Linked DNA regions of Homo sapiens: all the other regions are reported to be linked to region 1. The links are microRNA targets in miRTarBase. Many come from high-throughput screens and were not tested one by one. Region 1 holds a microRNA gene; each other region holds the end of a gene's coding sequence.
What was found. Region 1 holds the annotated microRNA hsa-miR-3153 (GGGGAAAGCGAGUAGGGACAUUU, at 3,350-3,372, shown strand). A microRNA usually pairs through its seed, bases 2 to 8, with sites in the 3' UTR of a target mRNA and lowers its output. Matches are read on the target gene's strand: a 7mer-m8 pairs with bases 2 to 8, a 7mer-A1 pairs with bases 2 to 7 and ends in A, and an 8mer does both.

Region 2: miRTarBase lists SLC25A36 as a target of hsa-miR-3153. Seed matches in the 3' UTR shown: 7mer-A1 at 1,598-1,604.
Region 3: miRTarBase lists ACADSB as a target of hsa-miR-3153. Seed matches in the 3' UTR shown: 8mer at 2,364-2,371.
Region 4: the mRNA of DPP6 is a reported target of hsa-miR-3153. Seed matches in the 3' UTR shown: 8mer at 4,413-4,420.
Region 5: the mRNA of RPH3A is a reported target of hsa-miR-3153. Seed matches in the 3' UTR shown: 7mer-m8 at 1,520-1,526, 7mer-A1 at 2,331-2,337, 7mer-m8 at 2,433-2,439 and 7mer-m8 at 2,607-2,613.

What each region holds. Positions count from the first base shown.
Region 1 is chr9:89,308,925-89,314,824 of GRCh38, forward strand. MIR3153 (microRNA 3153) reads left to right here and starts at 3,301; the gene lies at 3,301-3,382. CKS2 (CDC28 protein kinase regulatory subunit 2) reads left to right here and starts at 2,271. Exons shown (of 3, transcript NM_001827.3): 1 at 2,271-2,427. The coding sequence starts at 2,369. LOC105376136 (a long non-coding RNA gene) reads right to left here and starts at 1,878. Exons shown (of 3, transcript XR_930101.4): 1 at 442-1,878; 2 at 1-22. RefSeq lists a silencer at 1,577-1,806 and enhancers at 1,817-2,106, 2,777-2,826.
Region 2 is chr3:140,975,337-140,981,236 of GRCh38, reverse strand. It overlaps SLC25A36 (solute carrier family 25 member 36), which reads right to left. Exons shown (of 7, transcript NM_001104647.3): 7 at 242-4,977. The coding sequence ends at 4,784. Among named protein-coding and RNA genes, the nearest start is that of SLC25A36, 36 kb to the right of the region's middle.
Region 3 is chr10:123,052,518-123,058,417 of GRCh38, reverse strand. It overlaps ACADSB (acyl-CoA dehydrogenase short/branched chain), which reads right to left. Exons shown (of 11, transcript NM_001609.4): 10 at 5,258-5,357; 11 at 128-4,723. The coding sequence ends at 4,653. Among named protein-coding and RNA genes, the nearest start is that of ACADSB, 46 kb to the right of the region's middle.
Region 4 is chr7:154,892,052-154,897,851 of GRCh38, reverse strand. It overlaps DPP6 (dipeptidyl peptidase like 6), which reads right to left. Exons shown (of 26, transcript NM_130797.4): 26 at 3,567-5,518. The coding sequence ends at 5,372. Among named protein-coding and RNA genes, the nearest start is that of PAXIP1-AS2, 34 kb to the left of the region's middle.
Region 5 is chr12:112,895,986-112,901,885 of GRCh38, forward strand. It overlaps RPH3A (rabphilin 3A), which reads left to right. Exons shown (of 22, transcript NM_001143854.2): 22 at 665-2,896. The coding sequence ends at 795. Among named protein-coding and RNA genes, the nearest start is that of OAS1, 8.0 kb to the right of the region's middle.

The DNA of each region.
Region 1 (5,900 bases):
GAAAGAATTCAGGGTGAGTCCACTGTGCAAAATGAAAGTAAGTTTATTAAGAAAGTAAAGGAATAAAAGGATGGCTACTCCATAGACAGAACAGCCGAGGGCTGCTGGTTGCCCATTTTTATAGTTATTTTTTGCTTATATGCTAAACGAGGGGTGTATTATTCATGCCTCCCCTTTTTAGACCATGTAGGGTAACTTCCTGATGTTGCCATGGCATTTCTAAACTGTCATGGCACTGGTGGGAGTGTAACAGTGAGGACCAAAGTCACTCTCTTCGCCATTTTGGTTTTGGTGGGTTTTGGCTGGCTCCTTTGCTGCAACCTGTTTCATCAACAAGGTCTTTATGACCTGTATTTTGTGCTGACCTCCCATTTCATCCTGTGACTTAGAATGCCTTAACTGTCTGGGAATGCAGCCCAGTAGGTTTTAGGCTCATCTTACCCAGCTCCTGTTTAAGATGAAGGTGCTCTGGTTCACTTGCCTCTGACGATCCCAGCACTTTGCGAGGCCAAGGCGGGCAGTTCACTTGAGGTCAGGAGTTCGAGACCAGCCTGGCCAAAATGATGAAAACCCGTTTCTACTAAAAATACAAAAACTAGCTGGGCCTGTAATCCCAGCTGCTCTGGAGGCTGAGGCAGAATGGCTTGAACCTGGGAGGGGGAGGTCGCAGTGAGCCAAGATCACACCACTGCACTCCAGCCTGAGCAGCAGAGTGAGACTGTCTCCAAAAAAAAAAAAGGGCGGGGGGTGGAATTCCAAACACCCTCTTCCCCCAAGAAGTGATTGTATTAGGAAGTTAGGAGGTGGGGCCTTCGGGAGGTAATCAAGATTAGATGGTCATGAGGGTGGGGCCCTCACCCATGGAGATTATAAATGTCCTTAGCCGGCCTGTCTCACTTGTTCAGAAACCGGAAAAGTCCGTGGTCTGCAGTGTGGAAAAGGGCACCCGGACCTCTTACTTCCAGCCTCTAGTCTGGAAACTTTGTCTAAGGTACCCCATCTACATTACTTAGTCACAGCCACCCTGAACCCACTAGCCTGTACTGCGCTGGAGCATTTCGCATAAAATGAAATTAACATAAAAATGACACGTGCTCGTTGTGGAAAAAATACCAAAAAGATCACTTTTAATTCTGTCATCTAAAAATAACCACCAGTTACATTTATAAATTTCTTCCAGTAACTTTTTTATATGAACATGTTTTTAAACTTGGGTCAATATTAAAAGACCAGAAGTTGTTAAACATCATTTTAAATCCCCTTATCCAGGAATTAGCATTGTTATTCTTGGCCGCAGCAGAATATTATTTTATTCCCTCAAGCTTTCCATGGCTTGGGTCTGCCCTGGTTTTGAACATTAGGTTAGGCTACAGAAAGCATTCTGGGTCTCTGGCCCATTTGTTTCTTTCTTTGTGGAGACGGGGTCTGGCTCTGTTGCTCAGGCCTGTCTGGAACTCCTGGGCTCAAGCGACACTCCACCTCGGCCTCCCGAGTGGCTGGGACCACTGGCGCCCGCCGCCACCGCGCCGGCTCCGGGCCTCTCTCTACGCGTGGCTCCGCAGGCTCCATTCTCCACACAGTCGTCTAGGGGGGCGCCAGGAGCCCCGCGACGGGCCAGGCCGGAAGCTCAGCAAGTGCACCAGGCGGCGAAACGGCCGGCTGCGCAGGGCAGCCCCGGACACAGCCACGCCGCGGCCGCCCGGCGCTCCCCCGACCCAGCCGACCACGAAGCCGCCCTCCCCCTCACACCGCAGAACCTTTCTGCCTTTTACTACTTTTCAAAGTGGACCTAGGCTCCTGGCTCGAGCCTGAGGGGATACAAGGGATCACGAGGAGCGCCATCACCGTGCAAGGTCGACAGCTTCCGCTCAAAGCCCTGTGGCCCACGCTTCCGGCCTCGACCGACTACGTCATCACCAAACCCCGTGATACCTCACTCCACCTTCAGGTCCTCCGTCCCAACGGTTCCGTGTCCTGGAACTTTCCACGTTCCTGCGCACGCGCTCTGCGGCCCTTAACGTCCCGACTTCGCCCTCCTCTGGCCACGCCCCTGCCCGTTAAGGGCCCTGCCACCCCCGTGACGTACCTATCTTCCCTCGGGCAACCTCGCAACAGATCTCTGATTGGCTGACCCAGGAAGCGGACTTTGCGAGGCGGCGGCGACGATAGGCTGGCAGCCGGCCGACTTCCGCAGAAGGTGATTGGTCGGCGCTGCTGTCCAATCGGCGGCGGGCTGTCGGATTCAAATCCGGATCGTTGGGACTGCGGTCGTTAGTCTCCGGCGAGTTGTTGCCTGGGCTGGACGTGGTTTTGTCTGCTGCGCCCGCTCTTCGCGCTCTCGTTTCATTTTCTGCAGCGCGCCAGCAGGATGGCCCACAAGCAGATCTACTACTCGGACAAGTACTTCGACGAACACTACGAGTACCGGTGGGCGCCTTTCTTAGACCCCGAGCCGGCTCCCTCAGCCGGGGCCCCCGCGGGCGGGGCGACCCAGGCATAGTAGGGTCGGGGGTGGGGGCCGGGGCCTGGGGGGCGGAGCCCGGGGCCGGAGGGCGAGGGCCGGGGTTTGGGGTCGCGGCCACCTGGCGCCCCGCGCAGTCGGACATGGTTGGGTGCCTGGCCGCGCCGGGCCGGTTGGGCCTTTGTTCGGTGTGCGCGGAGGGTGAGGGAAGAGTGCCCACCGGGCCGCATTTAGTACCTGGGTAGGAACCGGCGCAACTTGGGGGTCATGGGGTCCTCGGCGACGCGGAGTGACCATCCCGTCACTTTTTTCTCGGCCGTGGCCGAAGTAATTAGGCCGTTCAGTAGCTGGTCTCAGTTCCAGTTCTTTGAACCAGTCCAGGAAAACCCACCTGGTGCCGTCCTTTTTCCTTTAGCAACCGTGACACACTTTCCCTGTCGCTGACGGGGTGATGCAGCTTTTACTAGTTTGTGGTTTAGAATGGTCAAATGGTCATTTTCATCTGTTAACACAGAGGAACACTTTTCTTTTTCTTGTTTTTGAAGTGAGTGGTATAAGAATAAGCTTTGGAGGCGACCCCCCGAAAAATGAGCTTGATGGGGATTCGAAAATGTTTACTGGGTATGGTGATTTGGGCCATTATAGGTTAGCCGCAGTCATACAATTGAGGGTATTATTAAAGGAGTTTCATTTTAAGGCCGATTAAGAACTTGAGTGGACTTTGGGCATCATTTTCTGCTAGTATACACTGGCCAAATTTTGGGCTTTGAGAAACTTTTGCGTTTGAGTCCTGAAGCACCGTACTAGAACATGGTGGCTGTAATCGATCAGTAAAATTAGACAAATTTTAAATGTCCCTGTCCCCTTCCCCCCAATTAAAGTAGATTGGGGGAAAGCGAGTAGGGACATTTAAAATTTGTTGTCCTTACTGTATGCGGGACACTTCATTTAGGGCGTGGCTTCAGAAAACAGTCAACCCCTTTTTCTTAACTAGGTAGCGACTAGAACGCTGCGTTCTGGGATACTACCAAGATTTAGGGGAGATAAAGCCCATGCCATCGTTGGCCAAATTGTGACCTTGTTTTCTGTCTGCTGCCTTTGTAGGTTAGATTTCTCCGAATGCTATTTAAGGAAGAAAGAACAAAACAGTGGGTGGTTTCTCTTTTTCTCCCCCTCCCTAGTAGCATGGAAGTCTGTTTTCACATGAGGACTACTGAATATTTCTATGGGTAGTAGTAATTGCACCCTTTTGTATTCCTAGCTAGAAAAATAGCATGTTTTTCTGGCTGTAGGTAAATTTCAAGTAGATTGTGTTAACCTTATAGTAATAATAAACTATACTCGTGTAATATGCTGGCAGTGTTCAATTATGCGATGTTAATCAAGAGCCCTATTGAGGATATCCAATAATGAACACAATGTAAACCGTAATAATCTTACTAAAACCTAGAAAATTATTCTGAAACACATCTGGTGCCAAGTGTTTAGGATAAGGATTTAAGGGTCGGTACAAGTTTCTTTTAGGGTATAATATTGAAAATAAATGAAGCTATTTCTCAGACTTCTTTCTGATGGCAGTAGGTCGATTTTTTAGTTTTAATATACTCAAATGATTTGTGTGTGGTAATGTATAGAAGAAAGTTTACATATCTGAAGTGATGTATTTTAATCCAATAAAAATTAGAGCTGGTATTAATTGGCCAAGCCAGTAACCTTTATGAAACAGGATAGTAATTTCCACACATAATTTTAAAGGGGAAACTAGTAATAATATAGCACTAAGGCATGAGTCTAGGGTGGTTTGTATTAATATGTAATGGTGCAGCATGCAATGTAAATTTCAAAGGCTAGTATTTATTTTTCCCAGTGTGCAGTTATCTCTATCTTTCTTTGATTTTTCTTAATTACAAACTTAATTTCCTAGTCCTTTTACGTGAGGGTCTTAATGTTTCTAAGGGCATAACAGTGGGTGCCCCCACCCCCACATCATGGAAGTCTGTTTTCACAAGAGAAAAACTGTTAATTTTTCTGGGCAGCCTTACAAATTAGTAATACTTGCACTATTTTGCATTTCAACTGAAATAAACGTTAGATTTTGGAAATAATTTTCCTTACATGTAGTTAGTTTGAAATCTCTGTGTGGCAAAATACAGGTAGAATCCTCATATGGGGTTGATGCTACTTAAACATTTTTCCTTTATAAAGAAACCCTGATGGAGGAGAGCCTGTTTCCGTGTTTATGGAGAAGGGTGGTAACTTCTATCTAAATAACTTGTTGGTAGATTTATGTACTCTGTAAGTTTGATAGAAAAGGTACAAAAGCACTACATTTCTCTTTGAGAATAATCAACAAGATAGAACGTAGAAATAAGATAACAGATTATTTGAAGTTAGATGTTAAAGCAGCATTTCAAGAATGTGGGTGATAACTGGTAAGAATTACAAAGAATCACTATATAGTTCACTGGAATTGATGAAAACTCTACAAATTATGGTAGTAAGCTATGACTTGGTGGCCTTAAGGCAATCTAACAACACAGTAGAATTTTTCTGAGGCTCACTTTGCCCTGCAAATAAATTGGTACTTAACCACAGACTAAAATTTAAGTTGATGACAGCTGGGTGCTTATAGCGGGTTAGGGATTCAGTTTACTGTGTCTCAGAAAGTGACCAGATTGCACCTCATTCATCCCCAGCCAGCTGACTCACAGACAGATATCTTATACTGGTTAAAAATTTGGGTTGGTGGTTATGGATGGTTCAGTATAAAACTGTTGCTACTACTGCAGGTGGTAAACATGGAGCTGAGAATTGTGACTTTCATAAAGTCCTTTTTATGGTAATTGAGTAAAAATTCTTACTCAATTTGGGGAAAGAGATTTGTTAGGCAAATCTTTGATAGAATGCTTTGGGATACTGTTAATGATACAGATTTGTTTTTGAGAATCTCGTAAGGCTACAATTATACATATTGATGGTTTAACTTTGAAGGTTATTCCATGCTTGCCTAAGAAACTGAACAATGTAAGTTTTGGATATAGGTCAGTAAATTAACTGGAAAACGGTGAGGTTGCACACAATGTGTATGTACAGTTAGTGGTTTTCTGTTTTTAATTTTGAACAAAGTACTTGAAGTATAAAGCAACTTCTGGAGCATACAAGGACTAGTAGCTACTACAAAGCTAGTGTTGAGTAAGAGGAAACCCAAATTAACTGTAACTTAGATTTTTTCGTTACATAAAAGTCTAATAATCTGGGGCAGGGATAACAGCTTTACAGTCAAGGACTAGGCTGGGTCCTTACCTCTTGTTGCTTTACCGTTCTCAATTTACAGTTGCTTCTATGGTCCTAGATTCCTGCTCTGGCTCCCTGATCATATTAATGTGCATTCAACAAGAAGGAGAAAAAGAGTTCAGCATGTTCTTTCCCTTTGAGAACA
Region 2 (5,900 bases), not on the chromosome of region 1:
CTGGCCTCAGGATGTAACCTAAGGTCTATATACGTTAGCTTCTAGACAGTTCATACTGTTCTTATGTATTCAACTCTGTTCCTGATTACTTCCTAATGTTTCATTCAGAGCCAACTTCTATCCATCTTTCCTTTAGAACGAAGTTTCTAAAACATCTATCTATTGTCAAGTGCTGGTGAATAACCTAGTGTAGTAAATAAAAAAACACAGGACTAAGATTCAGAGCACTCAAGTCAAAAACTCCAGTTGTAACTAATATTCCTCTGTATTTATTGGATCTATAGGCTATTAAGAAATCACATGACACCACTGTATAAACACAGCACTCTATGAACATAAATCTTGAATTGATTCAATACATATTAAGGCAGTCAGCTGGTCTACACAGTGCGAAAATAAAGAAACAGAAGGGAAGTCAGGCTGAGGCAGAATCGCTTGAACCCGGGAGGCAGAGGTTGCAGTGACCTGAGATCATGTCATTGCACTCCAGCATGGGTGACAAGAGTGAAGCTCCGTGTATATATATTAAAAGGGGGGGGGGGCAGGGGGAACATTTAATTACATTTTGCTTGCCTGAGTTTTATCAGTGTATAAATGTCACACTAGAACCTTAAGAAATCATGAACTCACAAATTACTTCCCTATCACGGCTCCCAATGTTCAGTAATAAACACACACACACAACTTGGAACACCTGTGCTCAATTTTAACCATTATTTTGCCAGTGCCTTCAGTGCAGAGTACTATTAGTAGAACCAACAATTTCAGATTTATGTCAATGTTGAAATACAAAATATATTTCGTCCTGGTTTCCTCAAGACTGGACAATGTTTGATGTTAACTACAATACAGAAAAACTTAAATAAAATAGACAAAATGTAAAGAGGGTAGGCACTACATAGCATTTTATCTTTGTCATTTGTATTTTGATCTAACATTATGTGGATTCATTTGGTTATTCTAACAAGTTCTCACCTCTGTATTTTTAATATCAACTTTCACAAAGGCTGAAATTAAAACATGAAAAGTGTTGGATAAAAGTCAATAAACCTGTGGAAGATATGCAAGATTTCTTTGTACACTATGAGGGAGTTGGATTACTTGACCTTTGGGTTCCTTCAGACATCACTAGATCTAACAGATACAAAGTGCTCAAGATAAGGTTTGCTGACTGAATCAAGCGAGCCTAAAACTTAACCTGAAAATGGCAATGGATTTTTGTTCCACACATAGGATAATCCAAAAAAGTGTGATTATGTTCTCAATAAAATGTTGATATATTACAGAAAAAGCCATATTTTCATGAGCGTATTTTAATTTTTAAAATTTGAACAATTCAAGTAAAAGTCAGCTAGATAACATAAATACAGAGTAAATGCACATAATTTACAGCCATGTACATAAATGCAAGATACCAAACCTCACATGAATAGTCAAAAGTTAACACTTTTGAGGTTCACTATTTAGCTATGACTGATAGGTCATAATTCTTCACATAAACGGGGTACACATTCCAAAAGTTTATAAACACAAAAACTGAGTCAAACCAGAATTTTGTTTCTACAAGGAGTAGCATAAAAATCAGTGTGTAGGTTAATGGGAAATACTAAGTACATGATGGAGAAGAGATCTGAGTGGGCAGAAAGTTTGTACATTGTATTTTATGTATTAAAATTCCTCAAATTTAAATCATTCAGAAATACCTATATTCTTAGGAATGTTAAAGTCATTATATATTTGAGGAGAAAAGGCTGAACTGTACTTATCAGCTCCAAAGGGGGTCCCTAGATTACTAACAGTCTGGGCAGAAGAGCATGTAAACAACAAAAGGCAGGCATGGACAATTATTGAAGGGCAAGAAATGGATTGATTTTTAGCACTTAAATCCTTCAAATCCGAATAAATATTTTTAGTGATTTAAAACCAACCTAAAAATGCTGAAATGTCTGTAACCCAGTAATAGAGCAAACATTATTTTTACCAACCCAAACTCTGCTGGTCCTAACATAGTAATGCTATCTCACAGATAATCTAATGATATTCTATCCTGACTTCAAAGTTACAAATTCACTGTGGTGGACCCATCTAGAAAGGATGGTTCTACAAAGTTACATAATGAGAATCAAACGAACTTTTGGTGATAGTTTTTTTCCTGGGATTAAAACCACTGCATGGTATCCCGAAATCACAAACGCTAATTCTTCAGATTTGAACTTTGAAATTTAAAAGTACAACAAACTAAATAATGTGGACTCTACACCAGAAATAAAAAAGTCATGATAAACAGATGAAAACAAGTTAAAAAAGTCCAATGCTCTGAATATGTGTTTTTGTTTTTAAACATGAGTCGATTTTTTAAAAACTTCAAAGAAATATTTCAGAGACAAACTTTATATACAACTTTTATATATAGTTTTCCTTTTTGAATTATCTCTGTCATACATAAACTATTGCAGATTGTGCTTAGGGAAAAATACAACTGAAATAAACTTCATTGCTCCTTTCTAGTTGTTGCACAAATAAACAATGTCCAAGACTCTAAGATTTCTTTGCTTTCCAGTACATACATAATACTGTTAAAAGCTGAATATAATGCACTAAAGGTCAACACAAGTTTTACTTGCTAAATACAAATAGAGAATATATGTTTATCCTTGAAGGACACTTGTTATGAATATGCTACAACTAAATAATAAGATGTTCCTTAGCTGCTGGTTTTCATATCATTCTTAATCATTTGTGGGGTACTGAGATCAGTAAGACTAGGGAGAGTCTCTATCTTACATTCAACACAATGAATGTTTATGGGTCTTCACAAGGCAAATGGCACTGTATTAGGCAGTAGAAATGGCACCTGAAAAGGCAAACACGATAGATTCAGACCTTCTCTACAGATTTGTTACAAACCGGTTTTTGGTACGTTCCTCATAATACATGTCAAAGCTGAAATTTACCATAAAAGGTACGAATAATTCCAAAGGTAAGAAAACTGATTTTGCCTTTGGTCTCCAAATAGATTGGAATATTTTTATTCCAATTGAGCACCTCAAAAACATCCAGTTACTGTTGATCACAAGGAAGTTAAAGTGGGGGAATTTAACAGGGCACTATGTTTCACTGGTGACAGCAGAGAAAGCTTGCAATGACACGCTGCAATATTCTATAATGTTGGGGGTACGACAGGGTACACAGAATACCTAAAACATTTATATTAAGGATATCCGAAACAACATATTTAAAACCCAGAAAAATGTTATGAACACTGTTTCTGCCTAATACGTGACCAATGTTTTTGTTTTTTTTTTTAATCTTAACATGGTATTCTCTCCTACTCTCTCACCCTCCCCCCCAAAAAAGGCCACAAAGTGCTTTCACGAAGCGTCATTCTTTTAGATAAAGCCATTGCACAAAATGTACAGTTCAGGTATACTGAAATGAGTACCACACCGGCGTCCAATTGCGGCAGTTTTTATACACCAGTATGGCATAGGCGAAGTCTTTTAACAGAATTACAGCAAACACCTTTATAAGGGCCATACAAATAACACATTTAAAGTATTAAAAGGTACAGCTGACTCAATAGCAGAATTTAAAAGCTACATCCTATTAGCACATTTAACCCAAATGAACTTGAATCTTTCTATGATTTACCACGCAGGAAACTAGGACAGAATAAATTTCTTGTCAAAAGCAGTTTGTTCATTTACACAAAACTATAAGTCAATTAATGTCACTACCTGCTAAAGCAGACAGCAAGGGGGCCCTTGTCTATAATATTTATACTGTCCCAAATATTGTCACCTTAAAATGGCAAAACTTTAAATTACTATTTTCTTTACAAAATAAATGTAATCTATTATATATAGACCTGGAAAAAACTCAAAAGTTCAAATTCTTAATGTGAAAGCAAGTAGGTAAAGATTCAAAAGTGAAAAAATCTTTTACACTTTATGTAAATGATACTTAAGTATGACAAAGAGGTGATAATTCAAGTTCGTAACTAGTAAGTCACTAAAAAGATAAATGCATTCATTCATGTACCACAAAATCAGAGAAGACACGAGGACATGCCGCAGTCAGTGAAAAAGCCGAGAAATCAACATTTTACTAGTTATTTTGTCCCAAACTATTACCATGTGTGTTTGGTATGTTAACAATTTAAATATCCACATTAGGCTAAACAACAAGCACCTGTCAGCAGTGGAAACCAAAACATTTTGATGCTAAAAAATATACAAGATATTTAGACGCTATTTCATTGGTTGTCAAAAACAGTGACTACTGCCAAATAATTAAATTTAAAATATTGTGCCAGGTCCTCTCAGGGAAATGTGAAAATAATACTGACGATCTCATTGTCATTGCTGTTATTTTACTGGAATTAAACAAAGGCCAGAAGTTATAAATTTATGACTGCCAATACTATCTTTGGATAGTTACAATACAGTATGTAAAATTAAGGATGGCTTTGTTTAGAAGACTGCCATAAATCAACAAAACCCAACTGTGTCTGGGGGACATGGTAGAGAAAATGGCAATTTTGAGAGAGGAGTGCTTCTAAAGGCATTTCCTTGGAGGCTCTGAGGTTTTTTTTTTTTTTCACATTACCGAAAGGCCAAGTAATGTGGTGTGATTACTATAATTCCTACAACAAAACTTCCACTTAGAATAGTTACATGTTCCCAAACTATTTTTCTTCTGTCTGCCATGCTGGCTTCTGTATCCCATGGTCCACTGTAATCTTTTGGTCTTCTTTTTTTGCAGTACAGCAGTCCTCGTGCTGCTATCCATTGAGTAGGTAAACCACCAATTCATAGGTGGCCATCATAATGGCTGTGTTTGGAATCTGTCTCACTAGATGAGTTGTCAGACCACGATAAAGAGACCCATAACCTTCTTCTTGAACAAGCAAAGATAGAGTCTGAAAAAAAGATCTGTATTTTGTTCCCTCTTCACGTAGTCTTGTTCTTACAACTTCTGTGTAGGAAAGAAATAAAATTAAACATTACTGATATCTTTACACTCTTCTAATTATAACTGAGCACATCCCATTTATCAGTCTGTAAGTGTAAGCTCAGGATAAAAAAGGATGGCTTCTAATGTGTAGCTTATTGAAACCAGTCACATTATAGTAACATCAAACTTCTAATATGGCCAAAATCATGTACATTAATTATAGACTTTATAGTCTTTGAATGTAAAAAGACACAATATAACAAGAGAGAAGTATCAGTTGTATGCTAGATAAACAGATAAAAGGAAGAATAGAAATGAGAAGGAGGAAAAGGTGAAGAGGCAGTAAAGAGGTGGCATCCAGGATGAATATAAAAAGGATACAGTGAGAAACAAGCAGAAAAGATTTGTTTAAAGTGAGTACTACAAAGAAACAATAGCATTATTAATCTATTCAAAACAGTCCACATATATGAATGTGAAACATCATGTGGACAAAGAAGTTGACAATGTTCCAAACACTAGCTGCCAGCTATAAAACCCAGTCTGGGAATCAGGTAAGCAAAAATAATAAATTTTTAAGAGCTGAATGAACCTTAAAGATTAGTCAGTCCAATTTTTCCTCATTTTAAAAGGTGAGAAATTGGAGCTACTGAGAAATTTTGGCCAGTTGTGGGTAGAAGCTGGGACAAGAACTCACAGCTTCCTATGTAACTACTTTTTTTTACATCCACTATTCCTCAAATTTTTTCAGCACAGTATTCCAGATGGGCCTAGGGAAATAGTCTAAAGCAACCCACAGCAATTGTAACTATTTACTTGAAATCTGTTCTGTCTTAAAGATTCGTGCCATTTAACTCCAAAATGTCCTGTTTGGACAGGTGTGGTGGCTCATGCCTGAGCCTGACTAGCATTCTGGGAGGCCGAGGTGGGAGAATCGCTTGAGC
Region 3 (5,900 bases), not on the chromosome of region 1:
TTATGTGAGAGGCAAGCTATTGGTTTGGTAAACAAAGATGTATATATCTTACAGAAAGATTACATTATTTTCTTATTTCATCTGTATGTATAACAAACAATTTTGCTTTATAAGAGTACCAAAAATCTCCAGTTAATTTAGTCCTTTATTTTTTTCATTCTCCATAGAATATTGGTTTTGTAACATCGAATACAATCCAATATATAACATTAAAACAATCCGATACATACCATTCTGCTTTATGAAAGATCAGCAAAAATACATAAACAAGGATATAACTAGTACATTTATAAAATACATCATAACAATGAAACCAAAGGATCCCACACAATAATCTTCACATTTGACATGCTGGTTACAGCTGAGGAGAGCCAGTGTCTTTGGCAAGTGATTCATATACATAAGCGATGACACTGACTAATCCTAACACTTCTGAAATGTTCATTCTTTACCAGTTAAACCTAAAATAAATCAGCAAGAGTACTGAAATATAACAAGAATGAAATCCAAAATTTGTCGAAAGGGGCAATGTTTAATACTAGGAAGAACACTGAATTTGGGGACTAATTCTTGTCCCCAAGTACATTTGGATTCTTGTCTTCGTTCCTGGATGATCTTAGGCAAGTAATCTGTGCTATGAATCCTTCACTTTTAAAATGAGAGAGTTGGTTGGCTGGTTCTCTAAGGTCTTTCTAGATTTTAACTTTCCATGATTTTAAAATCTTTGACACAGGCTTATTTTTGTGTTGTAAAATGAAATCTCTAACAATACTAACTTGGCAGTTGGGTGGAATCCAGTGCCACCCACACACATCTGCTCAAATAGTTCTTTATCTTCTGAGCCCCAAGACAGCCCAGTCCTCAAATTAACAATGATGGCAGGCTTCAGGAGGCTGATGGCTAGTTCTCCGCCAGACACAAATGCAAGATAGATAGTTTTAAAGCTCCTGAAGTCATGGTTATCAGAAGAAAAGCTATAAAGGAAGAACTACAGGGAAAACCTACAACACTCTCTTTGGAAAAATGACAAAATAACACATTTACTGATGCACTAACGGAAGAAGGTAGGTGCATATATTAACTATAACACATAATTAATTTTAACTGTTATTGGTGAATATGCACAAAATATACATACAAATTAGAACTTGATCAATAAATATAAATTCAAGGTCTAGATGCAAATGGGAAGCTCTCTGATGCTGGTAATTTGAACAAGAAGTTTATTGTACTTTCACATGTTTCTAATTCTATGGGAAGAAGTTGGGATTCCTTTTACTAATGTTGGCTTCTGCTCCATTATCTGTAAAGTCCACCTCTTTCACATAATCGCAGAAATTAAAGATGTCCAAGGCCCCTGTAGGGCATTTCATCCATGTCATACTCTTATCAGATGACTGTCTTTTTGTTCTGAAAGAGTGAATGAGTGGGTTTTCATCATCTCTCCATTTGAAAGTCAAGTAAGCTTTATCTCTTCGGATTCAAGGTCTAAATTTGTCCTTGTTTCTTCCTAATATTTTAATGTAATTCCTATGTCAATTGTATTTACACAATTTTTAATATTTAACTCTGATTTGCATTATAGAAATTAGTCCACTTCAATAAACATGAATGTGCAAAACAAAATTACTCTGGAAAAGTCAGGTTTTTTAAATAAACATTATCCTTTTATTAAATTACTAAAATGTTTCTCATATAACAGTAATGATTATTCTAAGCAACTGCATGAGCCTTGGAAGATTCTTCATCTCTAACACATGTTCCTCTTTCAGAAAATATCAAAACTCTCATTTCTCTGTTGTCCACCTTCCTCCTGAGGGGACTCAGGCCACACAGGGGGTCTCTTCTGACTGAGAATCCCTAATACTGAAGAAGTGGCATCACCAGTGATATGGTTTGGCTATGTCCCCACTGAAATTGCAACTTGAATTTATCTTCTGGAATTCCCACATGTTGTGGGAGGGACCCAGGGGGAGGTCATCGAATCAGGGGGGCCAGTCTTTCCTGTGCTATTCTCATGATAGTAAGTCTCATGAGATCTGATGGGTTTATCAGGGGTTTCCACTTTTGCTTCTTCTTCATTTTCTCTTGCCACCACCATGTACGAAGTGCTTTTCACCTCCCGCCATGATTCTGAGGCCTCCCCGGCCATGTGGAACTGTAAGTCCAATTAAACCTCTTTTTCTTCACAATCTTGAGGAATGTCTTTATCAGCAGTGTGAAAACAGACTAATACAGTAAACTGCTAACAGTAGAGTGGGGCATTGCTGAAAAGATAGCCAAAAATATGAAAGCAAGTTTGGAACTGGGTAACAGGCAGAGGTTGGAACAGTTTGAAGGGCTCAGAAGAAGACAGGAAAATGTGGGAAAGTTTGGAACTTCCTAGATACTTGCTGAATGGCTTTGCCCAAAATGCTGATAGCAATATTGACAATAAAATTCAGGCTGAGGTGGTCTCAGATGGAGATGAAAAACTTTTTGGGAACTGGAGTAAAGGTGACTCTTGCTGTGTTTTAGCAAAGAGACTGGCAGCATCTTTCCCTTGCCTTAGAGATTTGTGGAACTTCGAACTTGAGAGAGATGATTGTGAGACGTGGAGTCAAAGGTGATCATTTTGGAGGTTTAAAATTTGACTGCCCTGCTGAATTTTGGACTTGCATGGGCCCTGTTACCCTTTTGTGTTGGCCAATTTCTCCCATTTGGAATGGCTGTATTTACCCAATACCTGTACCCCCATTGTATCTAGGAAGTAACTAGTTTACTTTTGATTTTACAGGTTCATAAGTGGAAGGGACTTGCCTTGTCTCAGATGAAACTTTGGACTGCGGACTTTTGGGTTAATGCTGAAATGAGTTAAGACTTTGGGGGACTGTTGGGAAGGCATGATTGGTTTTGAAATGTGAGGACATGAGATTTGGAGGTGCCAGGGGTAGAATGATATGGTTTGGCTGTGTCCCCACTGAAATCTCAACTTAAATGGTATCTCTCAGAATTCCCATGTGTTGTGGGAGGGACCCGGGGGAGGTAATTGAATCATGGGGGCCAGTCTTTCCTGTGCTATTCTCGTGATAGTAAGTCTCACAAGATCTGATAGGTTTATTAGGGGTTTCCACTTTTGCTTCTTTCTCATTTTCTCTTGCTGCCGCCATGTAAGAAGTGCTTTTTGCCTCCCACCATGATTCTGAGGCCTCCCCAGTCATGTGGAACTGTAAGTCCAATTAAACCTCTTTTTCTTCCTGGTCTCAGGTATGTCTTTATCAGCAGCGTGAAAACAGACTAATACAACCAGATATATATTTTATTGCATTTTGCCTGTTTATAACCTATATTGCAAAACAATAGATTCATTTTTGCCTTCCCAAATATAAAACTATTTTAATATTGAATATGCTTTTTCAAACTCTACAGCCCCCTTCTCTCCCTCATTCCTTATGAGATTTTGATACACTTCTTAATGGGCAAGAGATCTTTTTCTTGAGAATCACTGAACCAAAACCCAATTTCTGAATTATTATTCAGGATAAAGTGCAATAACCATGACTGAAGAAACAGTATTCAATTAAAATACAGAAATTGTCAACTGAAAAATAGTGCATGACAGAATATCCAACACTGTATTGAATATTTTCTGATTATTAAACCAAATTACTTAAACCTTATACTTGAAAACTAATGCACATTGGTTTTTAAAATGACCTACTGAAACCACCATAAAATGTATCTTTTATACAGGTTAATTATAGTAACAAATCATATTGCTTTACATTGTTAAAATAATATTTTCTTCAATCATATGACCTACAAAATTATACCCTTATTTTCCACTGATTCTCATATTTAAAACCAGAATTTTTAGATTTTTCTAAATAAATTTTCATCAGTTTTGACTTCGCTTGCAACTTAGAGTTGAATCTATAAAGTACTGGATAAAAATTGCCTACTATGTAACAAATATTTCCCTGATGCCACAAGATTAAGATTTAATAGGAATATAAACTATTTCTATAAGTAATATTGTACTTCAGATGCCTTTATTTTTCCAAATGATGGGATGAAACTTCTGTATACTCTGAAACTAGAATGATAATATAAATACCCAGCCAGGCACGGTGGCTCATCCCTGTAATCCCAGCACTTTGGGAGGCCAAGGTGGGCGATATCCAGAAGCCAGAAGACCAGCCTGGGCAATATGGTAAAACCCCATCTCTACTAAAAACACAAAAATGAACCAGGCATGGTGGTGCACACCTGTAGTTCCAGCTACTTGGGAGGATGAGGCATGAGAATCACTGGAACCCAGGAGGTCAAGGCTGCAGTGAGCTGAGATCGCGCCACTGCACTCTAGCCTGGGTGACAGAGTAAGACAGAGTAAAAATATATATATGTATGCGTATACAGCTTTAAAAACAGTTTTGGAAAAAAATACAGGTGCTTATTTCCCAAGTTTAAAAGTGGATCTCCTGTGCCTAAGTTAAACAGCCTGAAAAGAGAAAACCAAAAAGGCCAACACCAGGACCCTGACTAAGGGCTTCATTAAAATATTCGAATGCTGTGGAAGTTTATTCCCACGCAAGGCACTTACTCCCAACAAGACACAACCGTTTAAAATTTTACAGCAGTGACACCAGGGAGGGGTCCCACTCCTATAGACGTCAGTATTCTGCATCGATATGCTTTGCAATGGTGTTCAACTGGATGTTGGAAGCTCCTTCATATATCGTACCTTAAGCAAAAGGAAGCAGAAGGAACAATGAGGAGTTGGCGCATGGTTAAGACAAGAAATAGCTCTATAAACATCACCTCTGCGCTTGCTATAAAACAGTTACTAGTCACATCACTTCATGTCCCCTGAATATGGTACTATTTCACAGTAATTTTGACTAAGAGATGACAATTTTCCATTTGGTTTCTCGATGTCCAGGATCAGTATTAAACTGACTAAAGGTGTAAACAAAAGTTGAAGATTTTGATTCTTCAACAATTGATGCATAAGCTCAGACTGTTATTTGTGGCAGTTTTACTAAAAAGCCTGTTGAGGCATTTAAAAAGGCAATTTGATATTTTTTAAAAATATAGAACAATTTTTTTTGAAGGACGAGGTAAGAAAAAAATCCAGCCACATAAATAGAGCCACCAAACATATACTGAAGAAATTAAAATTGCTTTTACCTAGGAAAAAAACGACAAATAAAACAGCCAAAATACCTACAGAGGCAAATAAAACAAAATAAAATGTAAAAAAAAAAAATCTATTTACCAATCTTTGCATCTCGGAAGTATTTCTCCACAGGGTAATCTTTGGTGTAGCCTACTCCCCCCATCCACTCGATACATTTACTCGTTGTTTGTCCTGCAATCTACCAAAAGCAAGTGCAAATCACACACTGAAACCACATAACTTATACATGATAAACACTTCTGGGTAACATTTTCAGCAACATGGATTTACTGTTAGTGGCACTGGAAGGACTAAAGTTATCTTCTAAACTAGCATTGTCTCTTCAGTCCCATTCTCCATACCATTTCTGTAAAACATCCTATTAATTCACAGAATCCCCATTTTCTTAAGAAATTAGAGCATTGTTCACATGAATCTGCATGCTGAGAGATATCATTTATTCAGGAAATGTTTACTGGGGGCCTAACGGACGAGCTAAGGGACATTTCAAGCTGAGGACCAACACGTCGAAATCCTCCAAGGGGAGAATGAGCTCTTCAACTTCCAGCCCCTGAGACAGCCAGTGGGCTGGGATCGGGGTGAAATGTGAAAAGAGAATGGAGGAGCGAGAGACCCTGCAGAATGGCCCCTCAAGGACGTCCACATCCTAGCCCTCAGAGCTGTGAATATGCTGCCTTCCATGGCAATAGGGACTCTGCAGATGTGGGTAAGGACACGAGAT
Region 4 (5,800 bases), not on the chromosome of region 1:
ACGTAAATGACAAGTTAATGGGTGCAGCACACCAACATGGCACATGTATACCTATGTAACAAACCTGCACGTTGTGCACATGTACCCTAGAACTTAAAGTATAATAATTAAAAATAAAATAAAAAAAGTTGGAAAAAAAAAAGAGAATTTCTAGAAAGGATCCCTGGCTGGATAGGAATTGGAAGGACCCATAGCTCTGTGGTTTTCTCAGAGCCTGGATCTTGACGCCCATGTCCACTGAGCCAGGCTCCATGTTGGCTGGAGACTGTGCTTGGGGCACCCACACGGGTGAGGACGAGCACCCCAAGGGACCATGCTAGACACCCCCAGCCCAGCTCTGTGGAGAAAGGCAGCTGGCTACTACTCCCGGGGCCCTGAGGCCAGGACTTGTGAGTTTATCATTGAAGAAAACACAGCAGGAAAAAAGGGCGGAAGGAATGCAGGACTGTGACTGTTTCCTGCGTGGTTTTGGACAACTTCCTTGCCTTCTCTGGGCTTCAGATTCCCTATCTGTATAGTGTCACTGGCTGAGTTCAGATGGAGAATGACCATTTTGGAGCTTGTGGTTTGCAGAGGGGAAGCCAGGCCTTCGGGAGCAGCCCTGGAAGGCTGCCCGTCTGCCTGTCTGGACCCCTGGGGAGCCCCAGCAGGGAGGTCAGTCTCCTGAGGCTCTGTCCGCCTCCTCTGCCTCCCTCCTTCCCTGGCCTCAGAGTCCCCAGAGGCCCCTCAGCAACTCTTCTCTGAAATAAAAGAACACCTATTTTCTCCCTGGAATGCCAGTGTGAAAATAAACAAAGACCACCTGTGACAGACTGAATGTTATGTTTCCCCAAATTCACTGTTGAAGCCCTAAGCCCCGGTGTGATGGCTAGAGATGGAGCATCTGGGAAGTGATTAGGGTTAGAAGAGGTCATAAGTGTGTGTCCCCCATGATGGGATTTGTGCCTTGTAAGAAGAAACATCAGAGAAGTCTCTTCTCATGCTCTTGCTCCCTCTCGCTCCTTCTCACTCTGCCACGTGCAGACAGAGGGAGAAGACGATCAATAGTAAACCAGGGAGAGAACCCTCACCAGGAACCGAGTGTGCTGGCCCCATGATCTTAGACTTCTGGGCTCTAGAACTGTGAGAAATCAAGTCCTACTATTTAAGCCCCCAGTCTATGGGACTTCACTATGGCCGCTAAGGCTAAGACTGTACTAAAATGAGTGTGAGCAGAGGCTGCTTATCCAGAGCTTTCTCCAGCAAGGGGCTCACTGCTCTTACCTGCGTTCGGACGGGGGGGTGGGTGAGCTTCACGGTGGAGAAAAGGAGGCTCCAGGGATGCTCTGGCTGGAGGCTGCTGGAGTGGGAAGCTGGAGGCGCTCAGAAGCAGGGCGTCCCAGGAGATTGGTTGTGGGTATCTGGCTTTTCCCAGTTGGTCCTCAGTTAGAAGCAGGGCTGAGAATAAGGGAAGCTGGTATTTACTGCTCAAATCCTGACCTCTGGGACCAACTGCTGCAGAGGCCATGCCTGGCCCCGGGGCAGTGTCTGCAGGTGCAGGTTGGAGCCCTGCCCTGATTTATGGCCTGGCCCTTGTCCGTGGGCACATCCAGGCTCTCACCAGGCGCCCGTCTCGGCGTAGCTGCCCGTCTACGAACACGCAGCTGTGTACCAGGAGGGAGCACCAAGGGAGCTTCTGAAAATGTCCTTCCGGGCTCTTCTGTGACAGAGGGGATTTTAATAGGGGCTTCCCGAAAACAATCAATCCCTTAAATCACTGCTTCTGGGTGGGTTGGGTCAGGCAGGAGGGAAAGGAGCATGTTTTCAGGCCAGTGGGGATGGAGGTCCCCCCACGTGCATGTCTTTGTGAACCTGATGGCCCATGGCCTCAGAGATGCCCCAGGCAGCCCAGGAGTTGGGCTGTGGGCCTGGAGCTGGGTGCTGAGAAACCTGATGGTGCTTTGGGAATTCCATAGCTGCCTGGTTGGAAGTTCAGTATTAAAACTAATTTAGGCCAGGTGCGGTGGCTCACGCCTGTAATCCCAGCACTTTGGGAGGCTGAGGTGGGCGGATCACGAGGTCAGGAGATCAAGACCATCCTAGCTAACATGGTGAAACTCCGTCTCTACTAAAAATGCAAAAAATTAGCTGGGTGTGGTGGCGCTTGCCTGTAATCCCAGCTACTCGGGAGGCTGAGGCAGGAGAGTCACTTGAACCAGGGAGTCAGAAGTTGCAGTGAGCTGAGATTGCGCCACTGCACTCCAGCCTGGTGACAGAGCGACATACCATCTCAAAAAAAAAAAAAAACAAAAACCTAATTTAAAACGGAAATAAAAGTAGCACTCTACTGTGCCACGCACGTGCAGTTTGAAAACACAGAGAAGGCTGCAGTGGGGGATTTGAGCCAGGCAGGCACAGCAACCACAGCCGCGGCGGCCTGGTGAGGCCACGCCGGCGTCTTCCCAAAGCCATTCTAGAGCTGGGGAAAGACCAAAGCTTCTCCAAGTGGGAACCGGAGTGGTCCCTGCTGGTTGCGGCCAACACTTGTTCTCAGGGCCAGGCCTAGCTCGTCATTCCACACTCAGTGTTTTCCAAAGTGGGAAAATGCACCTTCTTGAGCAAACCGTCAACTCCTATCCACAAATCAAGCCCTGGTCCGGGGGAAGGACTCAGGGATGGAAAGCTGGGATGGGGGCACTGGCCTCCTTCTGGGGCGAGACCAGGGAGAGGGCCAGGGTGGCTCACAGAGATACTGTTTGGGGGGAATGAGTATGTTAGACTTAGATGGCCTCTGCTGTGTCTGGTTTTTAAAAATCTCCTTTCACATTTGATTCTTTCTTTTTCCTTTTTAACTCCTCCTCTCCACCCACCCCATTCTTTCCATGATTCTTGATCCAGAGGGTGACAAGAATCAGCTAATTCAGCGGGGCTGATGGGACTGATCCCCCATCTCTGAGGCAGCAGCTGCTCCATGGTCGGGAAGTATTAATTAATTAATTAAATCAATCCCTTGGCTTTCAGGCTGGGCCATGTTTACATCGACATTGATAACAGCAAATGAGTGGATACATTTCCAACAGATGGAGACATTTTTCTACAGTTTTCTAGGCCAGGCATGGTGGCTCACGCCTATAATCCCAGCACTTTGGGAGGCCGAGGCAGGAGGATCACTTGAGGCCAGGGGTTCAAGACCAGCCTGGGCAACATGGCAAAACCCCATCTCTACAAAAAAAAAGAAAAAAAAATTAAAGTTTTCTAGTGGGCAATGCTATGGCTTCCACTGAGAATCAATTTCACTCTCAGGGTTAGGGAATAGCTCTGCGTCTCCACCCTAAGACTCCCAAGACAAAATTCAAATTTGTTTTCTTGGACTGATTTGGGGCTTTGATATATTCGACTGGTTGCGTCCTTCTCTACTACCCAGACTGCTGCGACCATGGATGCAACCTTCATTTGGCACACAACAGGCTCTTGTGGCCATGCATCCGTCTTGGAGGGGCCCAGTGGGTTCTCTGAAAGTCTCCTGAAGCCTAGCACACTTTCTAAGGTGCGATGGGGGAGGATGAGCAAGAAAGGAACAATCCGAGTGGTAAAATAATGTTTTATTCCATGGATGAACAGACGCTACCATGCCACATCCCCACTTCCCTCCGACCAGATGTCGTGGCCAGAGCTGGCTTCCCCTTCCAGACCTAGCTGGCTTTGTAGTCGTTCAGGCCCATTGAAATAGCAAACGCACAGTCATGTAGCACTCGGATCGGTCCTGTTTATCAGCACGTTGGTCCTTTCACAAATGGTGGTGAATCACCTTTAAAACACCCAGTGATGGAGACCTTCCAATCACCCTAACTATAACGGACGTTCAGAGCTCATGTGGATAAACCCAAAGCCCCAAACGCCAAAATGCAACAGGGACGCATCTCCTCTGCTGATGGGATGCCAAGGACACCCCCGCAGGGCTGGGAGCTGGCGAAGTCAGTCCTGACATTCAGCTTGTCCACAAGCTCAAAAGGAAATGACAGTAATGGATATATTTCAAACTAGCACTTCTAGAGTCCAGATCGGCCACAGTGTCAGCATGCAGGCTCAACACGGGGTTAGCACTGGCGGGAGGAGGCTGGGTTGACTGCACAGAGGCCTGACACACATTGCTTCCTTTATATACAAGAGAATGAAATATACACTGGGAACACCGGCTGCACATTTGGTGGGGGTGTATCTTACAAGGCTAACGTAGCACATCATCAACCTCCTGCTCGTGGCAGGAAGGTCACGGAGCCACCCCCACGATGGGAGAGGGATGCGCGCAGGCCCACAGAACCCTCAGGACTCCCGTGGCCCGAGCACACACAGCGGGCCTGTGGGTGGAGTTGACGCTTTGTCTTTTTTCTGTTTTTTTTTTTTTTTTTTTTTTTTTTTTAAACCAAATGTCATGGGAAAGAGCTTGATACGGTACCAAGGAGGACAAGGATGGTTGTAAGGACGGATGTAAATAGACAGTGCACACCTACAGCCAAGCCCTAGCATAGCTGAGTGGGAGAGAGGTTTTATTTAGGTATTTCTTTTAATGGGTGCTATTGGCTGTCTTCCCCCTCAGTGTTTAGGAACGTCCCCAAGACGTCTGAAGACAACCTTGAGGAGGGAGCAGTTACTTCCGATCTGCTTCTTCATCAAGCGCAAAGTCTACACGTGGACTGGAGAAAGGAAAGGGAAACAAGGCCCAACCCCAAACAGCAAAACAACCCCATGACGGAGACAGTGGAGCATCAGGTTAAAACCATAGAAAAATACGAGTTAATTCTATCAGGTTAACCATTAGCGTAGCTACAGTAAGACTCTGTACAGAAAAGCGTTTTCTTGTAGCCCCTCACCATGTTGAACGTCCTCATTACAGGAAGTAGCAAGCCCATATATGAACACGCACTGCTAAAACAATGGTGCTGTAACTGCTGCGTCCATGGCACTGCGACGTGAGACAGGGTGTGATGTCCCTAACGGGAACACAGAGGCTAGTGTGGGCGGGTCTCATGCTTCCGCTTGGTGGCTGGAATCTAGGGGCCGGTGTCCTGTGGGCTCGCGTGGGGCCTGCGGCCACCATCCTTTGCTCTGTTCCTTGGGGGAGGGGCCGTGGCGTGCCGGTCTCTCGGGCGCCGGGAGGAGGCGCTGCTGCGGGGACAGCGTTGTCCCTGGTGCCATGGAGGCCGTGAGTGATGACCCCGGGGAAGGAGCTTGTTTCCCAAGCAAAACTGCCTTCCGCATCCGAGACACACATGCTATGGAACACCCGGCCCCGCCCCGCCCCGCCCCTCCGAGGGAAGAGGGAGGGCAGGGAAATCCCTCGGTTGCATCTGGTTGTAGAAAGAGCCACGTTTGTGCTTAGAGCGACCTGAGCTTAGTCCTCCTCCTCGTCCTCTTTCGCTGTGACTGTCAGCAGTTTGTCCTGGATCCTGAAGCATTCCACGAAGAAGTTGATGATGGACCGGTACAGATGCTGTTTGAGGCTGGAGCTGGTAAAGTAATGGCTTTCGTCCGGGTAAATCTGCAAGGAAGGCACGGAGAAATTACTCTCCCAGGTATACGCTCCCCAGGGGACGGGAACGCACAGAAGGTGTGGAGTTTAGTGAAACCTGGGCCCCGTCCGGGGCTGGATTGTAGTTGATGAAGTGGGTTTGCTAACCATGCCACTCCTGATGGAAGTGCCTCTTCCTCCTGGGAGATCTGCCTGGCTGTCCCAGTCAGAGGGGCGCCTCCCCTAGCGTGGACATGCACCACCCATTCGTGAAGCCAACCAGCCTTCAAACACCACCACGCCCCCGGTGCC
Region 5 (5,900 bases), not on the chromosome of region 1:
TTGTTCAAATGCTAAATTGAGACCCATGATCTTGACCTTGGTCCAATTTGGGGATGTCTTTACATGAAAAGCCTTACAAAACTTGATTATTTGTTGAACAAATCACCTCCAGTGGGGTAATTAAATCACAGGAGAGATTTGCGTTCTCTGCAGAAAGCAGGGTGCAAAAGAATTCTTAATTTATTTGCATGTCCAGGATAAAATTTTTAATTTTTTAGTTCCTGTTTGAATCATGAGGAAGAAAATCAATTAAAGATGAAGCAGGGGGGTGGGGACTCCAGGCAAGGGACAGAGCCTGAGCTAAGGGGTAAAGACAGGATTGAGCAGGATGATGAACCTTTTTGGAAATAGACAATGAGTTCCCAGAAGTAGTGGGAGATAAGTTTCAGTGAGTAGAATGGTGATTTGTAGAAAGCCTTTAAAAATAGACAGTGAAATTATGACTCAGTGGAACAGTAGGGAGCCATTGCAGGTTCTTGAGGCAGAGAAGGACCGTAATAATAATAACAACAACAGCAGCAACGTTATAACAACTCTCTATAGAGTATGGATCCCAGGTTGCTGGGGGTCACTGCTTGGTGCAGTTTTTTCCCCAACTACACATTTGGGTCTAGAACGACCTCTATTCTGACCACCTGCTCCTATCTTCCCATTTATCCTCCAGGAGGCTGCCAGCTGGGGATCTCTGCCAAGGGAGAGCGCTTAAAACACTGGTACGAGTGTCTGAAAAATAAAGACAAGAAGATAGAGCGCTGGCACCAGCTACAGAATGAGAACCACGTGTCAAGTGATTAGGCTAGTGCCCAGGTCCCCATCTCCATGTCCCGGGTCCCCCCCAGCCTGCTCTAGCTGCCCACCGCACCCTGATCTCTCTTCTCTATGCCTACCTCCCCCCATACCCTGCTGATCTCCCTGAGCCTGCCTTTGAGCCCCCGTCACGTTGGGCACTGCTGCCAAAGACTCCCTCCTCCCTGATGCTGGGATGTGGGCTCTGAATACAGCCCCTCTCTCATCCCTGGGATGGAGCAATGGGGATGGGGTTGGGGAGACGTTTACAAAGAGGTTGATCATTTAATAACCTCTCAGTTTGGGTAAATTACAAAGGTTCTTCATCATTTAGGACTGTTTTTAGACCCTCCTAGCCTTGAACACACACATGTACACACACACACACACACACACACACACACCCTTTCATTCCCTGTGTTGTGTCTCTGTATATCCCCAGTTGTCAGCAGACCCGGACAATGCTGTGAGAGAAGCATTGGGGCACAAATAGAGCCTCCGGGCTCCCACTGCCCCCTGAGATGTACACCCTGATTGCCAGGAAAACAGACTGCTGTGTTCAGTAACACACCCTCCCTGCTCCAAGTGCACCAGGATGCAAATGCACAGAATTCACCAGGGGCTTGGACGCTCTCCTCTTTCCGAATGTCACCTGTGTGCTTCCTAGCAAAACAAAAACAAACGACAACAACAAAAAACCCTTCCTCTGTCACCTTTTCTCCTCCTCCCTCTTCTTTCCCTTCCATGATAGTAGATTCTCTCTTTCTCAGCCTCTCCCCTCTCCTTTCTCTCCCTGCCTTTCTTCCCTTTGCCTTTCTCTCTCTCTAAAGCAGTAACACCGCAAAAACAACAGCAAAAAAAGTGTATGTTAACCTAGCCTCACCCCCTTGCTCTCACCAGCCTGACCAGGAAACTGAGAAACTGGCCCAAACCTGAGATTCCACTTGGGCCCACGCTTCTTAACTGACCCACTCCTCCCGTTGGCAGAACCAGACATTCCCAGGGCTTGGGCCAATGGCTGGCACTGCCCTGAGTGCATGGCAGCATCCCTCAAGCTGTGTAGATGCCCCATAGAGGACTCTCTCATCCGTGGGCTCCCCGGGTGGGCACGGAGGCATTTAGAAGACCAGGGCCATGGGTCTGAGGAAGCCTCAGCCAAAGCCTCCAGCCTTTCTCCTTTCTCCGCTCTTAGGTAAATGAACAAGCTACCCTCCTCCCCAATGCCCTTGACTCTGTTTCATTGACTCTTTTGCATCCCATCTCTCACTCAGAACCCCCTCCAGTCTCTCTGTCTCTCTTTGTCTGTCTCTCTGTCTCCTGCACTCTCGTTACTAAGCTTCCTGGGAGAATCAAATAATATCATGGCTATGGAACAGTAGAGAGAGACAGGCCTGATGCCAAAGGCTTTGGGCTCATCATCAATCTTTCACTTTCTTCCTATAAAAAAAATTATTTTATAAAGGAGGAAAAGGCAATGTGGGCAAACATTACAAATTTGAGGTTGAAGTCAGGCAATCTTCAATGCCCTGTGAGAAAGGTTCGATTTTCCCAATTTTGATGAAGTCTTCCCTCATGAAAATCACTCCCAGTCATCCCAAACCCCTGACATTCTCTACAGAAGCATCAGACAGATACTCAAACTCTCACTTTCCCCAAATCACATCTCTTAACTTTTCAACGCCCTCCACCCTCAGCTCCCTGCACAATTCATGGGAGGACTCATTTCTTGCCTTGAATAACCATTTTCTAAACATCGAGCTCTTCACCTTCCCCAAGGTGGCCAACAGCTTCCTGGCTGCCATCTTTCCTTTTGACCTTATCTTTCCCCATTAGTCCCTGGTGGCACCTACTCTCAGCCCACCTCCCTCACCACAGTTTCCCCTTAGGAGACAGCATGCTGGCTGTGTCGCCCAAGCCTGATGCTGGTGTAGGCGCTGGAATCAGCATGCAGCAAGCTCACAGTGCCCCTAGTCTGGGTGCCCGCTGTCCCCGACAAATGTAACCACCTCCCTGCCTAGAATACACACACGTCCTCCGGTGCATGCACAACCACCCAGCATCTTTCTTTGTGATGATGTAGCCAAAAATAAAGTAGGAGCATCCAAGAAAACGAGTGGTCTGCAGTTTTCCTTTCTGGTTTCTGCGAAGTCCTCCTCCCCACCAGGACATATGCTATTCTGATAGTCAGTACTTAATGAGCATCTACTATGTTCCAGGCACTGGCGACAGATGTGTTCTCTGCCCACGAGGAGTTTGCTTTATGGTGGATTTTATCTTGGGCAGGTGGGCCTAAGGTAACTTGGCTGACTCCAAACCCTTCTAGAAGAATACTTTTTGCTGGTGCCTACCAAACAGGAGGGCAACATCCTCATCCTCCTCCTGCTGCTACAAGACCTGGGAAACGTCCCAGGTGGTTGCAGAATCAGAAATTGCCAAAGCTAAAAGAGAACATACAATTGAGCCACAACCTAGTTCAATCAACTCACTTTTTAGACAGATGAAGAAACCAAGGTCCAGAGAAGAAAATGCCATGTCCAGTGTTAAACAAAGGCAATACCAGGAAAGGAGTTCGATCGTTGGACTCCCAGAATCCAGTGTTCTTCACACACTGATCGATGAGCATGGACCATCAAATGCCTCCCTTGCATTGTAGCACCTTCCAACCTACAATGATTCTCTCATTGGAGATTCTCGATAGTCCTGAAGGTGAACTGAGTCAGCAACTGACTCTCCAGAAAAAAAAAATCTTTTTTTTTTTTTTTTTTATTATGGAGTCTCCCTCTGTCCCTCAGGCTGGAGTACAGTGGCACAATCTCTGCTCACTGCAACCTCCACCTCCCGGGTTCAAGTGATTCTCCTGCCTCAGCCTCCCGAGTAGCTGGGACTACAGGTGCTTGCCGCCACACCCGGCTAATTTTTATATTTTTAGTAGAGGCAGGGTTTCGCCATGTTGGTCAGGCTGGTCTCAAACTCCTGACCTCAGGTGATCCACTTGCCTTGGCTACTCAAAGTTTTGGGATTACAGGTGTGAGCCACTACACCCGGCCTCTAGAATTCTTAATCACACTATAATCCATCCCCAAAGTGCTTAAGCAATTTATCAGTAATGGTTACTTCAAGAAGGAGCCATCAATTCTGTCCCACAGATAATTCTCTTTTCTTTGAGACCATTTCCTGTTTGTGCCCTCAAAAGCAAAAGCTGGCATGTTAGTCTCACTTGGGAGATTTCTTTCCCCACAGATTCTGCTAAACCCTGAGGATAAGGTGTATAGTTGAAAATATTTTCTGGCCGGGCACAGCAGCTCATGCTTATAATCCCAGCACTTTGGGAGGCCGAGGTGGGTGAATCACCTGAGGTCAAGAGTTCGAGACCAGTCTGGCCAACAGGGTGAAACCCTGTCTCTACTAAAAATACAAAAATTAGCCAGGTGTGGTGGCGTGCACCTGTAGTGCCAGCTACTCGGGAGGCTGAAACAGGAGAATAGCTTGAACCTGGGAGGTGGAGGTTGCAGTGAGCTGAGATCATACCACTGTACTCCAACCTGGGTGACAGAGTAAGACGCCGCCTCAAAAAAAAAAAAAAAAAGAAAAAGAAAATATTTCCTGGTTGATGCCTTGTGATTTCCACCTTCATGATGACTTTGAAAACCACTACCCAAAAAGTTGATCAGTTTTTCCTGGTGGCAATTTAGCTAGCTGCCACTAGGTGGAGAGAGGTGCTAATTATGTCCTTAGAAGCCTCACAGGAACAGCTGGAGACACTTGCCATTCTCCCTGTGCTCCTGGCAGACATCACTAATCAATACGGCATCTTTCCTACAGAACCTACAAGCAGCCTCTGAGTCCCTCTCAACCCAGGGTTCCAGGGAGCCACCACCAGTCAGTCATGGGTGGCGGTTAAAAAGAAGCCTAATTTCCATCCTTAAACTGGTTGATCTTCATTTATATGCAGACAAGCCTAACAGACTGAGATGAACATACAGGAGGAAAGTTTTCATAAATATTAGTACACCTGATCTAGCTAATTGTGCTGCCCCACCCCTGACCCCTGGCTGACCCCATTGAAATAAAACACTCTGTAAGTGGCTATATGGTGTGTTGGAAAGCATCTGCCCTGAAAAGAACGCGAGCCAAAATTTCAATTAAGTCCAGCATTCAAATTCTGACTGACACTTTCTAGCTATGGGAACTTGGCCAAGTCATTTAGCCTCACTGAGTATCAGTTTCCTCAGCTGGAGTAATAAATATTTCAAAGAGTTGCTGAGAGATGTTAACGGTACAGTCCATCGAGAGTACCTGGCACGTAGTAGAGACTTGACAAGTGCCACCTCCGCTTGCCAGCCCCTAAACTTGGGCTCCCTCACGCAGCTTGCATCGGGGAAAATGCTCTTGAACTGGCATTGGTTGAAAACAGGACGTTGGAGCTGAAAGTGGGTGAAGTTCAGGTGAGGCAGAAATCAGATCTCCAAGGTCTCTGCACAGATGGGAGCAGACTCTCCTGCTGGTGCCCACAGAAATTCAGCCAACATCTAGAGATGTTTGTTCTGAGTAGGAGTCAGAGGCAAGATCAAGTTGCTGAGGTCTGGTTTCCCATCAGGGATGACAAAAGGGAGGCCAGGAAAAGGGGCAGGTCACAGGGCTGGTGGTTCCTGGTGAAAGCAGTGCAGGCCCAATTGCGGCTGGGCTTACCGCCAAGTGGATTAAACACTCAATGCTCTGAAACCTGCCAGGCTGACCCTTGCTCAGCTCAATCAGATCTGCCAGGGACATTGGCTTGATGAGGTTAAGCAAGCCATTCAAGGTGATGGACACCCCAATTACCCTGATGTGATTGTGACACATCATACACCTGTGTCCAAAATATTGCATGCACCCCATAAATATGTACAACTCTTATGTATTCATAATAATTAAAAATAATTTTTGACCAGGCATGGTGGCTGATGCCTGCAATCCCAGCACTGTGGGAGGCCAGGCAGGTGGATCACCTGAGGTCAGGAGTTCAAGACCAGCCTGGCCAATATGGTGAAATCCTGTCTCTACTGAAAATACAAAAAATTAGCCAGGCGTGGTGGCGGGCACCTGTAATCCTTGCTATTTGGGAGGCTGAGGCA